2 separate regions of the Homo sapiens genome follow, and region 2 is linked to region 1. Evidence: fine-mapped expression QTL. Tissue or cell type: whole blood. Region 1 holds a variant in brackets; the other region holds the start of a gene. All regions are shown on one strand. Distances are from middle to middle.

What was found. PIP is the estimated chance that this variant, and not a neighbour inherited with it, causes the effect.
Region 2: it holds the start of MINCR, and the variant in region 1 is fine-mapped to the expression of MINCR in whole blood (INTERVAL, PIP above 0.99).

The regions. Positions count from the first base shown.
Region 1 is chr8:143,243,797-143,248,939 of GRCh38, forward strand. ZFP41 (ZFP41 zinc finger protein) reads left to right here and starts at 3,143. Exons shown (of 3, transcript NM_173832.6): 1 at 3,143-3,346. RefSeq lists silencers at 2,238-2,397, 2,598-3,487, 3,528-3,577. The variant A/G (reference allele first, on the strand shown) is at 2,046.
Region 2 is chr8:143,279,194-143,284,336 of GRCh38, forward strand. MINCR (MYC-induced long non-coding RNA) reads right to left here and starts at 2,507. Exons shown (of 3, transcript NR_120682.1): 1 at 2,289-2,507; 2 at 1,689-1,804; 3 at 962-1,322. RefSeq lists enhancers at 348-990, 2,287-2,436.

The DNA of each region.
Region 1 (5,143 bases):
AGGAGCAGAGACATGGCAGAGCCTGGGGCCCCCAGCCCCTCTTCAGAGAGGCTGCCTCTGTGGGAAGCTCTGCAGGAAAGGGGTCCTCAGCCCTTGGAGCTTCTTTCCATATTTACAGGGTAGCTGGAGCGGGGGGGTCTGGTGACAATGGGAGATTCCGGGCCAGGGAAACAGCCTCTGCCCACATATCACATACCAATGGTGTTGGCACCAAATGGAGTCTCTGGTGGGCCGGCCCAGCCACCACCACGCCTGAAGGGACTGGAGGGGCCACCTGGCTCATTTAGAAGGCAAGGGGCTGTCTCTTTTGAGATAGGGGAAGGACACCTTTCTCCTTCTTCTGCTTTTGTTTTTTGTTTGTTTGCTTTTGTTTTTTTTTTTGAGATGGAGTCTCGCTTTGTCACCCAAGCTGAAGTGCAGTGGCATGATTTCAGCATCACTGCAACCTCTGCCTCCCAGGTTTAAGCAATTCTTTTGCCTCAGCCTCCCAGGTAGCCAGAACTACAGGCACGTACCACCACACCCGGCTAATTTTTGTATTTTTAGTAGAGACAGGTTTTCACCATGTTGGCCAGGCTGGTCTCGAAGTCCTGACCTCAAGCAATCCACCCACCTTGACCTCCCAAAGTGCTGGGGTTACAGGCATGAGCCACTGCGCCCACCCTGCCATTCTTATTCTCAGTCTTATTCTCTCTGTCCCAGCCCCATCAGTCATCAATTGCTCAATAAATATGGATTAGGCACCTGCTATGGGCTATGTGTTGGCCCCCGATAATACAAAGATGAAAAAGACAAGCCCTGACCGAGGGTCATGTGCAGCATGTAACCTGTATGGACAGCTACCCACGCAGCCTTGGCCTAAGGCTGGCAGGGGCGAGGCCGGGGCTGGCACAGAGGAGCTCGAACAGGTGGAGTCTTAAAAAGCAGGAAAGGGTCTGTCAGGCGGAGGCGGAGCGGGGGTGTTCAAGGCCCAGGGTTGAGGCATGCAGCCGATGCTGTGTGGCAGGGCAAGCACTTGCTGCTGAGTCTCCTGGAAGGGGAAAGGGTGGTGAGAGGGGCGGCCTGCAAGTCTGTGCAGGCCCCTTTGCAGCTGCTAAGGGGGCCCAGACCTCATCCTGCAGGACAGGCGTGAAGCTGGGAGGGCCACTGTGGGTTTGCCCGGTAAGTCAGTCCCTCCAGCTGCTGTAGGAGGGGTGGACAGGGGAGCCCAAATGAAGGCAGGGAGACCCCAGGGCAGGGCACAGAAGTAATGCTGGTGAGAGGAGATGGGGTTGCAGCCGGGACAGAGGAAGCAGGCTGGACAAGAGTGGGTGGTTTAAAACATTGGGAGGTAAAAGCAACAGGATGGGAGAGGGGGGTGGGACGAGGAGGGAGCAGAACTGCCTGGTTTTCAACACCTTGCTAAGTCCAGGAGGCAGTTGGAGAGAGGGCTGGGTGGGGGCAGGCAGTTCCTAGGGTGCCACGACACCAGCAGCACCTAAGATCTCCACTCATGCTCACTCAGTCCACACGACACGAGGGCCCAGCACACATCAGGCACCCAGAACAAGAACAGGTGGCTGCCCTCCAAGAGCTGATTTGCATGGGAGTGTGGGAGCGGGGGATAATTAATAATAAATATAATAAGGAAATCATATAGAAAGTGGAAATGGGAAGTGTTGGGGGGGCAGAATGCTGCAGATATCCTAAGGAGATGTGCCAGAGCCAGCCCAATGCCCATCCTTCCCTTGGCTACAGGCGGCACTTGTGACTTGAATCTGAGTAGAACTGGGCCGAGGGGGTGGCATGTCACCCACAATTAGGTTCTGTTCCACAGGACTCCATCTGGGGGTGGGGCTCTCCCACGGACCCTGGGGAAGCGGCCACCCTGTGAACCGCCCACCCTCCCACAGTAGGGACTGGCAGGCAGCCCCCGGGAGCTGAGAGCAGCTCCTGCCGGCCCTCAGTCCTACAGGCACCAGGACATGACTTCTGCCAGCAATCGCATGAGGTGGGAAGTGATCCTTCCCCAGTCCAGCCCCCAGATGAGAACACAGCGGCTGACC[A/G]GAGCTGAGGACCCAGCTAAGCCTGGCCTTCTGGCCCACAGAAGCCTTGAGATAATAGGCGGATGTCGTTTTAGGACACCCAATTTGCGGTACGTAGGGAACTAACACGCGGGGCTCTGGCGGGCCTGGCGGCTCAGTGCGATCTGGGCAGGCAGGAAGTGGAGTGAGCACAGCCAGCGGCTGGGAGCACATCCCGGAGGGGCTGCCTGCGGCGGGAGGAGCGGCAGGGGCCACGTGGTGGGGGACGGCTCGCCAGGGCGCGCACGCGGTGGCGGCGGCGGTGGAGGCGTTGCCCGCCTAGCTAGGGGCCCGCGGCCTGGAGAGGCGTCGGTTCTCCTTCCGCGCTGAAGGCGGAGACAGCGACTTCCCGTGGAGGCAAGCCGTGGGCGCCGCGGAGGCGGGGGCTGGGGGTCGGCGGAGGCGGGAGCTGGGGGTCGGCGGGGGCTGGGGGTTGGCGGGGAGCGTCCTCAGGGACAAGTCTCCCAGCACGCGGCCGCGACCTCCCCGTTGGGGGTCTGGAGCCAGGAGCCCACGCGCGTCGGATCCGGAGAGTCTGGTGGGCGCAGCCTACGTGACAGGGTCGGCTCGGGACCGAGCTGCTGGGGACTGGGCCTTGCGGGGCGGGGCCGCTGGGGGCGGGGCATGAGGGTGCCGGTTCGGGGCGGGGCTTTTTGGGGGCGGGACATGGGGCGGAGCCTGGGGGCGGAGCATGTGGGGAGGTGGCTGGGGAGGAACTTTCGGGGGCGGGACACGAGGGCGGAGCCTGAGGGGGCGGGGCATGAGGGGAAGCCGGCTCGGGAAGGAGCTTTCGGAGGCGGGGCCCGCTCGGGGAGGGACCTGATTTCGGGGGAGCCTTCGGGAGGGCGCCTGCCATAGACGACTGTAAAGGGGCGGGGTCAGCTCGGGGAGGACCCTGCGGGCGTGGCGGCAGTTATGGGTGAAGCCTGAGGGGGCGGGGCCTGATCGGGGCGGGGTCTTCGGGGGCGGAGTCGGCTGGGGATGGAGCCGCTCGGGCCGAGCCCTCCACCGCCCACCATCACCGAGTCCGGCCCAGGCTCCTAGCGCGGCCGCCGGAAGGGGCGGGTCAGCGGGCGGGCATTTCCTGCCGGTGCCTAGGGCCGACGGGGACGCTGGCACTGGTGGGGAGCTGTTGGGGGGTCCCGCATCTAGGGCTCTCCTTTCCTGCCTCCGGCCCCCGCGAGGGGCGCGCGCCTCTCCCCGCCCTCCAGCAGTCCTGGTAGGGCCCGGGCGCGTCCGCGCTCTGCAGCGGGAGGTCCTCGTCGCCTCTCGTCTCCAGCCAGGTACTCACTGGGCTCCTGCCTGCCGCCTCCGGCCCAGGACGCGCAGCGTCGGTATGGGCCCCGCCGCCTCCCCGCACCCCGGCGCTCCAGGGATGTGGCAAGACCCGGCTTTGAGCACCTCCCGGGCGCCGGCCCCGAGGCCGACCTAGCTCTGCACGTGGGCCGCGGGGCTCTGCCGTTGAAAGGAGAGCCTCTAACTAGGAGCACGCACGGGACCCTGGCGGGCCCCTCCGCCTGGCTCAGATGCCTGGCATCTCAGGCCTTGGCACAGCTAGCAGGCCCCTGGCAGGCCGTGGACCCAGCAGGCTGTTTTAGTGCAGATTGCCCCTGAATCTCAAGCCCACTAATGTTCCAGTCTCTCCATGAGACCCAGATCCCTGAAAGTAGTGGAGGGAGGCGCCAGGGTGAGTGAGGTTTTCTAGGCAGCCCTTACCGCCCACGGATACCCAGAGCTTCATATTACAAGTGAAGGGTCCTCCGCCCAGAGAGGCGACGGAGCTACGCTGGAGTTGCACGACAGAACCAGAACCCCAGTCTTTAGGGGTGTGGCAAGCGTGGGTTGCGCTGTTTGTAACTAGCTAATCACTCCTGTCTACAGGCCTGTGAGGTGAGGCCAAGAAAATCGCTATGGTCCAATCCGTTTTTGTTTTTTGCGTGTGGGGTTTTTTGTTTTGGTTTGGTTTGGTTTTTTTGTTTGAGACGGAGTCTTGTTCTGTCGCCAGGCAGGAGTGCACTGGCGCGACCTTTGCTCACTGCAACTTCTATCTCCTGGGTTCAGGCAATTCCCCTCCCTCAGCCTCCTGAGTAGCTAGGACTACAGGCACGTGCCACCACGCCCAGCTAATTTTTTGTGTTTTGGTAGGGACAGGGTTTCACCATGTTGGCCAGGATGGTCTCGATCTCCTGACCTCGTGATCCGCCCACCTCGGCCTCCCAAAGTGCTGGGATTACAGGCATGAGCCACCGCGCCCGGCCAGTCCACTCTGCTTTTAAGAAATATTTTATTTCTCAGGGTGGGCAGCGTGTAGAGAAGTGAGTCATTCCAGTCTCTGCCGGTTAGCACCTGCCAGCCTAAGTTGAGTCGACAGAGCCGTTATGGAGAATGTTCCCTGACCACAGTATGTGACTAGGATTTGGAGATAAAAAAGATACGATCCTCGCCTTCAGGAGACCCTGTCGCATAAGGAGACTGCCATGTCAGTGACCAGCCACACGTGCAGTGACAAGTGTCTGGAAGAAGGAACAGTGCTGTACAGCATGGAGGACCCCCACACAGGCCTCGGGCAGCAGCCGTTAGGCTCAGTGGGTTCACAAACCACCCCCCGCCCCGCCGTGGAGTGGAGTCTGCAGAGAGCCAGATAGGTTCCCGCCATGCCCTGGAGAGCTGCCGTTTCTCCAGCTCCGCCCTGCCCATGAGGCAAACAGCTGGTCGACTGGTCTTCTGTGCTGGTTCTTGGTTCTCACCTTTGTTTCCTACCAGAGCTGGACCCCGGCCTCAAACTCCAGCCAGCTTGGGCTGTGATCCTCTATCCTGGGCACCAGGGCCCACCCCCTGCCCACCCCAGCAGAGATGCTGCTTTATGCCTGCATCCTCCCTCAGCACACGTGGCCTTCATCTTCAGTTCTGGCGCCCACCTGATCTGCCTCCTCCCACACGCCACCTCTAGATAGAGCCCTAGAAAGTGATGTTGGCCTGAAACTGAGTCACATTCATCTAAACATTTTCCTGTAGAAAAGACCAGACCCTCCTTGTTGAGATAGGAAATCTGTAGTGAGTTTATGTGTTACCTGCACTCA
Region 2 (5,143 bases), 35 kb after region 1:
CCGGGACGCCTGCGACCCTGAGCTGTGCTCGGCCTCTTGGTCACGCCTCTCCCCATCCTCCTTCGATTTGCGTCACACGAGGGCCGCTTGTCCGGGTGGCCGCCCCCGGGGCTGGCTCGGAGCCCCGTCCCACCCCTGCCGGCTCTGCCCCATCCCCCGCCACCAGAGGAACCTGGACGCAGACCACCTGGAGCATCTCCAGCTCAACGGCCAATCTCCAACCCACACCACCTCCAAGCCCACACCACCACCCCTCTCCCTCCTCCGACCCAGGACCCCGATTCTCAGCCTTCGCCCTCTCTCTCCTCCCCGAAGTGACCAGGGATCTTCCTAAAGATCCCATGGTATCTGGGAGCCAAGGTTTGGGATCTGCCAGCCCTGATTCCATAACCCACACTTATCCTTCCTCACGGAGCCTGTTTCTGCCTCTGACAATGGTGGTTAGCGCAGCCCGCTCCGCACCGCACATGGCGGCTGCAAGGACGGCATGGGTGGGGTTCTTTGCACAGTGCCAGGTACATAGCAAATCCCCACAAAAAGAGCTCCTGGAAGGGCTCTGTCAACAGCGTGAGTGGACAGTCTCAGCAGAGGACCACCTGAGGCTTGGGTTGGTCACAGCAAATGTGAGAGACCAGGAAAAGGGGTGCATGTGAGTTCTGGAACCCAGAAAGTGATCATCTGTATCTGGCACAGTATCTGCTTTTGAGCCCAGAAGGAAATAAAGGCCCTGGAGGGGCGCTGAACCCTAAAGCACTGGAGCTGCAGGGAGAGGTCTTCTGAGGCAGCTTCTGGCAGCCCCAGACAAGGGGAGGGCCAAGTGCTGACCTAACCATGGCCTTGGGGGCAGGTGTGCAGGCCTATGGATTAGCAAATAAGGACCGAAACATGCTTATGGATTAGCAATTAAGGACCAAAACATGCCTATGGATTAGCAATTAAGGACCAAAATGAGCTTAAGTTTGGACCCTTTTCAGTTCACAAGCGTTTTTATTTTTACATACATATATGTAGCATGGTGTATTGGCTAAGAAAATCGACCTTGGAATTTCAAGCCCAACTCTACAGTTAACTGTGAGGTTGGATGAGTTATTAATGTCTCTGAATCTATTTCCTGATTAGTAAATGATGTATTATGGTTCTCCAGAGAAACAGAACCAATGATGTGGGGTGGGGGAGGACAAGAGAAAGAGGGTTATTATCAGGAATGCACTCACAGGGTTATGGGGGCTGGGCAGTCCCAAGACCTGCAGCTGTCAAGCAGAAGAGCTGATTGAAAGCCAGTAGACTTGAGACCCACAAAGAGCTGATGTCTCCATTCAAGTCTGAAGGCAAGAAAAGACGTAGGTCCCGGTTCAGTCAGGCAGGAGGTGGTTCCTATGCGGGCCTTGAACTAATTGAATGAGGCCCACCCACATTATGAAGGGCACTCTGCTTCACTCAGTTCACAAATTCAAATGTTAATTTTATCCAAAAACACCCCCACAGACACACTCAGCACACACAGTGTCACTACTTACTCTCAGATTGCTCTCCAGACTGGGGGAACCAATTGACAAGGCCCCCAGCTCCCCCAGCTATGAGACTACATTCCCCATAACTTTTCAGCATGTTCACTTGATTCTCCAACCTTAACAGACTTGTGATATTACTTTAATGGCAAACAAGGCTCTGCTGTCCCACGCGCTTACTTTGCCACATGGCACAGTATCTGTGTCACAGACGCACTCTTCCCAAGGACAGGTCCAGGCCTGTGTCAGTCACTGCTTCATCCCAGCACCTAGCACAGGGCCTGACTCATGGTGAGCTGTGGACAAACGCACATGCAATTAACGACTTGTTCCTGCCTCAGGGTTCTCTTTTCCAGATGAGTAGAACAATTCACATTTTTTCACTCCTTACTTCAGACTGGGAGAAAGGGCCTGAGCAGAAGGATCAGAGTTCAAAGGAGGGGACACAGCGCCACAGAGGCAATGCCTGGAGCAACAAAGATTGGGGTTTGGGCATGTACTGGAGTGAGAGTGGAAAGGGCATGGAAGTCAGGGTCCAGTCAGAAGACAGAGGCCTCGTCAGTTATTTCAACAGAGAGGATTTCGCATCATGAATCACTATGTACGAAGTGACTACCGAAGGAGCTGAAAAGAGAACTCTATCTCAGAAGCAAAAACTGCAGGGAGCACCTGCTACGCTAGGGCTGTGGAAACAAAGGGAAGCGTTTGGAATTACTGGGGTCAGAAAGCCTGGGAACTAAACCCCTAAGGAGAGGGCTTCGCAGGTCTCTGGTCCCTGACCTGGCCCCGAGGGTGGGGACAGATCCCCGAGGCGAGGCGTCGATGGCTGCGGTCTGAGGTCTCTAGCGGGGGGCCGATGAAGCTCTTCTGCGAAGTTGGGAACCCGCGCACCAGTTTTAGCAGCCGCGGAAGGAAGTGCTCTTGCCGGGGCGAAGCAGCAGAGTTCGGAAGACACGCGACCAGGGCACCAAACAGACCGGAAGCCTGAGGAAAAAACCGGAAGCAAACCGGAAAGAGTGTGCCCCTCTCTCCTCCGCAGCCTCGCGCGCTTTCTCTGGCGCCCCTAGTGGGAAAGCCTAGCATGGCACCAGCTGGCCAAGCAGAAAAAGGTTTGCGGAGACCGGGCCAGCCGCAGAGGTGGAGCTGAGGGTCAAAACCTCCTCCCTGGAGCAGGAGGGCAGAGAGGCCTTCCTTGTACGTTCGAGCGGATTCATAAGATAAATGGTGAAGGACTCAGATGGCTGAGATGAGATTTTGTAGAAAAACCTCGCCGAGTGCCAAGTGCAGCTAGGGCTTCAGGAGTCCAGCCTGGTTTGTAAGCCTCGAGGAGCCCACGCGTGGCCGCAGGTGCAAATGGTCTCAGAGCAGCCATGCACGGGAGAATTCCTCCCAGGGAGAAACGCCGTGAATGTGACTTCTAGGGACACGCACAGCCGGTGGAAACCGTATGCATGTAGTGTGCATAGGTGAGATGTAATGGAACACTGGAGAAGCACCTTGTGAACGTGGGAAGGGTTTCGCGCATGCTCAGGCTCCGTTCGGGATCAGAACATTCCCGCAGGAGAGAAGCCAATGAGCAGCACTGGACGTGGCCACACCTTCGTGGAAGCGCTGGTCCTCAGGCATCAGAGTGGACATAGAGAGGCCCTGCAAATGTAATGACTGTGGGAACGCCCGCCTCCTGAGTTCATGCTGCCGTGAGGGAGCGGACTGTGGGTGCGGGCATGCGGAAAGGTCTCAGATAATCCCCACTGGAGAGGAACACTGTGGATGTCATCCACGCAGCAGAATCGGATAAATTGCACCAAGGGACCCCACCCCCACCCCCTGTGCAGTGACCACCGCAAAACCTTTAAGCAAAGATCTCATGCCCCGAAATGCCAGGGCCGTCACCAGGGATGCAGCAGGGAGTGAAACACCCATCTCTTTTCTCACACCAAACCGTAGCCAAGGGATTCACCACGAGGTGAGCCGGTGCGAGAGGGAGGACTCTGCAGGCGGAGACTGCCCTCGGGGTTGTGGCCTCAGAACGGGGTCCTGCTCCCTGGAGACATGGACCCTGTTTCTTACAGTAGCTTTTGTGCATCATGGGCAGGCAGTGCCAGTTGACACCAATCAAGTCTCAACACTCAGCCTGCACACGTGCAGATCCTCTGGAAAAACGCAGCCCCTCCCATCCTCAGATCCTAAGAGAGGTAGGGGCCTTGCCCATTAGCTGACTCCAAGACAACCTGGCTGGGACTAGAAGGTGAGAGCCAACCCCTGCGGCTGCTACAAGCCCCACAGGAGGCCCGGGGAGGGTTTCCTGGCAGTGTCTTCCGAGTCGCCGCAAGTTTCTGCCCAGTTTTCACAGCCTGCTCTTCCCTGGGTTCCGGCTGGGTCTCTTCCTCAGGTATGGCTCCACGCCTCCCCTGCCCAGTTGATGCAGGTCTCGCTCTGATCACATCCAGTTCCTGTAGACCATTGGCCACTCACCAGGCCGCTTTGCCTTGCGTTTTCTAGGGTCTTGTTTCATGGGGTCATGGGAACCCACTCAGGGACCACCCAACTACCTGAGAGGCCCACTGGAAAACGCAGATTCCCAGGCCCCACCCCAAGGGATTCAGCAGGCCTCAGGGGAAGCCAGGAAATCTGGATTTAGTTCAAATACCCAAATACATTGATCATGGGCCTGGTTCGGGAATCTGTTCTCCTCCAAGCCCTCAAAGCAGGAGCTGCTGGCCTGCCCTCTGCAAGGCCGCTGCCCAGGCTCTCCTCAGACACCACCTGGACGGGCAGCTCGAGCCGTGGGACGCCCCTGCTTGGGCCAGAATCGGGTCCTGCACCTCAGACCTGCAGGGCCCAGCTCGGCCTCTGGGCCTCTGGCAGCCGCGCCCTGCCTGGCACCCCCTGCCTCCGTGACGCCCCATCTCTCTCTCTACAACGTAGCCCCGTGCTAGTTCACAGCCTCGCGACCCCTCCCAGAGAGGCCCCACAGCCATGGCCCCCAGCCGCGCGAGCAACGCCAGGCACTCGCCCGGCCCTGGCCCGCCACCCTTGGGTTCGCCTGGGGTCCCCCGCCAGTCTTCCGAACGGGTCCTCCGAGCTGCCTAGAGCGCCCGGAAATGCCCTCGGCATGGGGCGGGGCTTGCGGGGGCGGGGCCGCGCTGCCGACTCGGGCTGGGCTTGGCTCACTGGGCCTAGGCAGTGCCTCAAGCGTGGGATACCCTGGTCAAGTCTTTAAAGATCACAGGTTTTAAACAGATTTCTTTTTACCCAATAGCATTTATTCATACTCTTTAAAGAAATTTGGGAAGTGTAGGAAAAATAGAAGAGACAGAAATTTTCTCCTCAGCACTACGGGCTAAGTATCCCAAATCCAAACACCCCCAATTCAAAACTTTTGAGCAGCTGACATGCCGCACAAAAGGAAATACTCACTGGAACACTTCAGATTTCGGATGTGGGAATTTGGGAGGCTCACCTGCTAACTATGGTACAAATATTCCCCAAAAAAAGCCAAAGCTTTTTTTTTTGAGACAGAGTCTCGCTCTGTCGCCCAGGCTGGAGTGCAGTGGCACGATCTTGACTCACTGCAAGCTCCGCCTCCCGGGTTCACGCCATTCTACTGCCTCAGCCTCCAGAGTAGCTGGGAC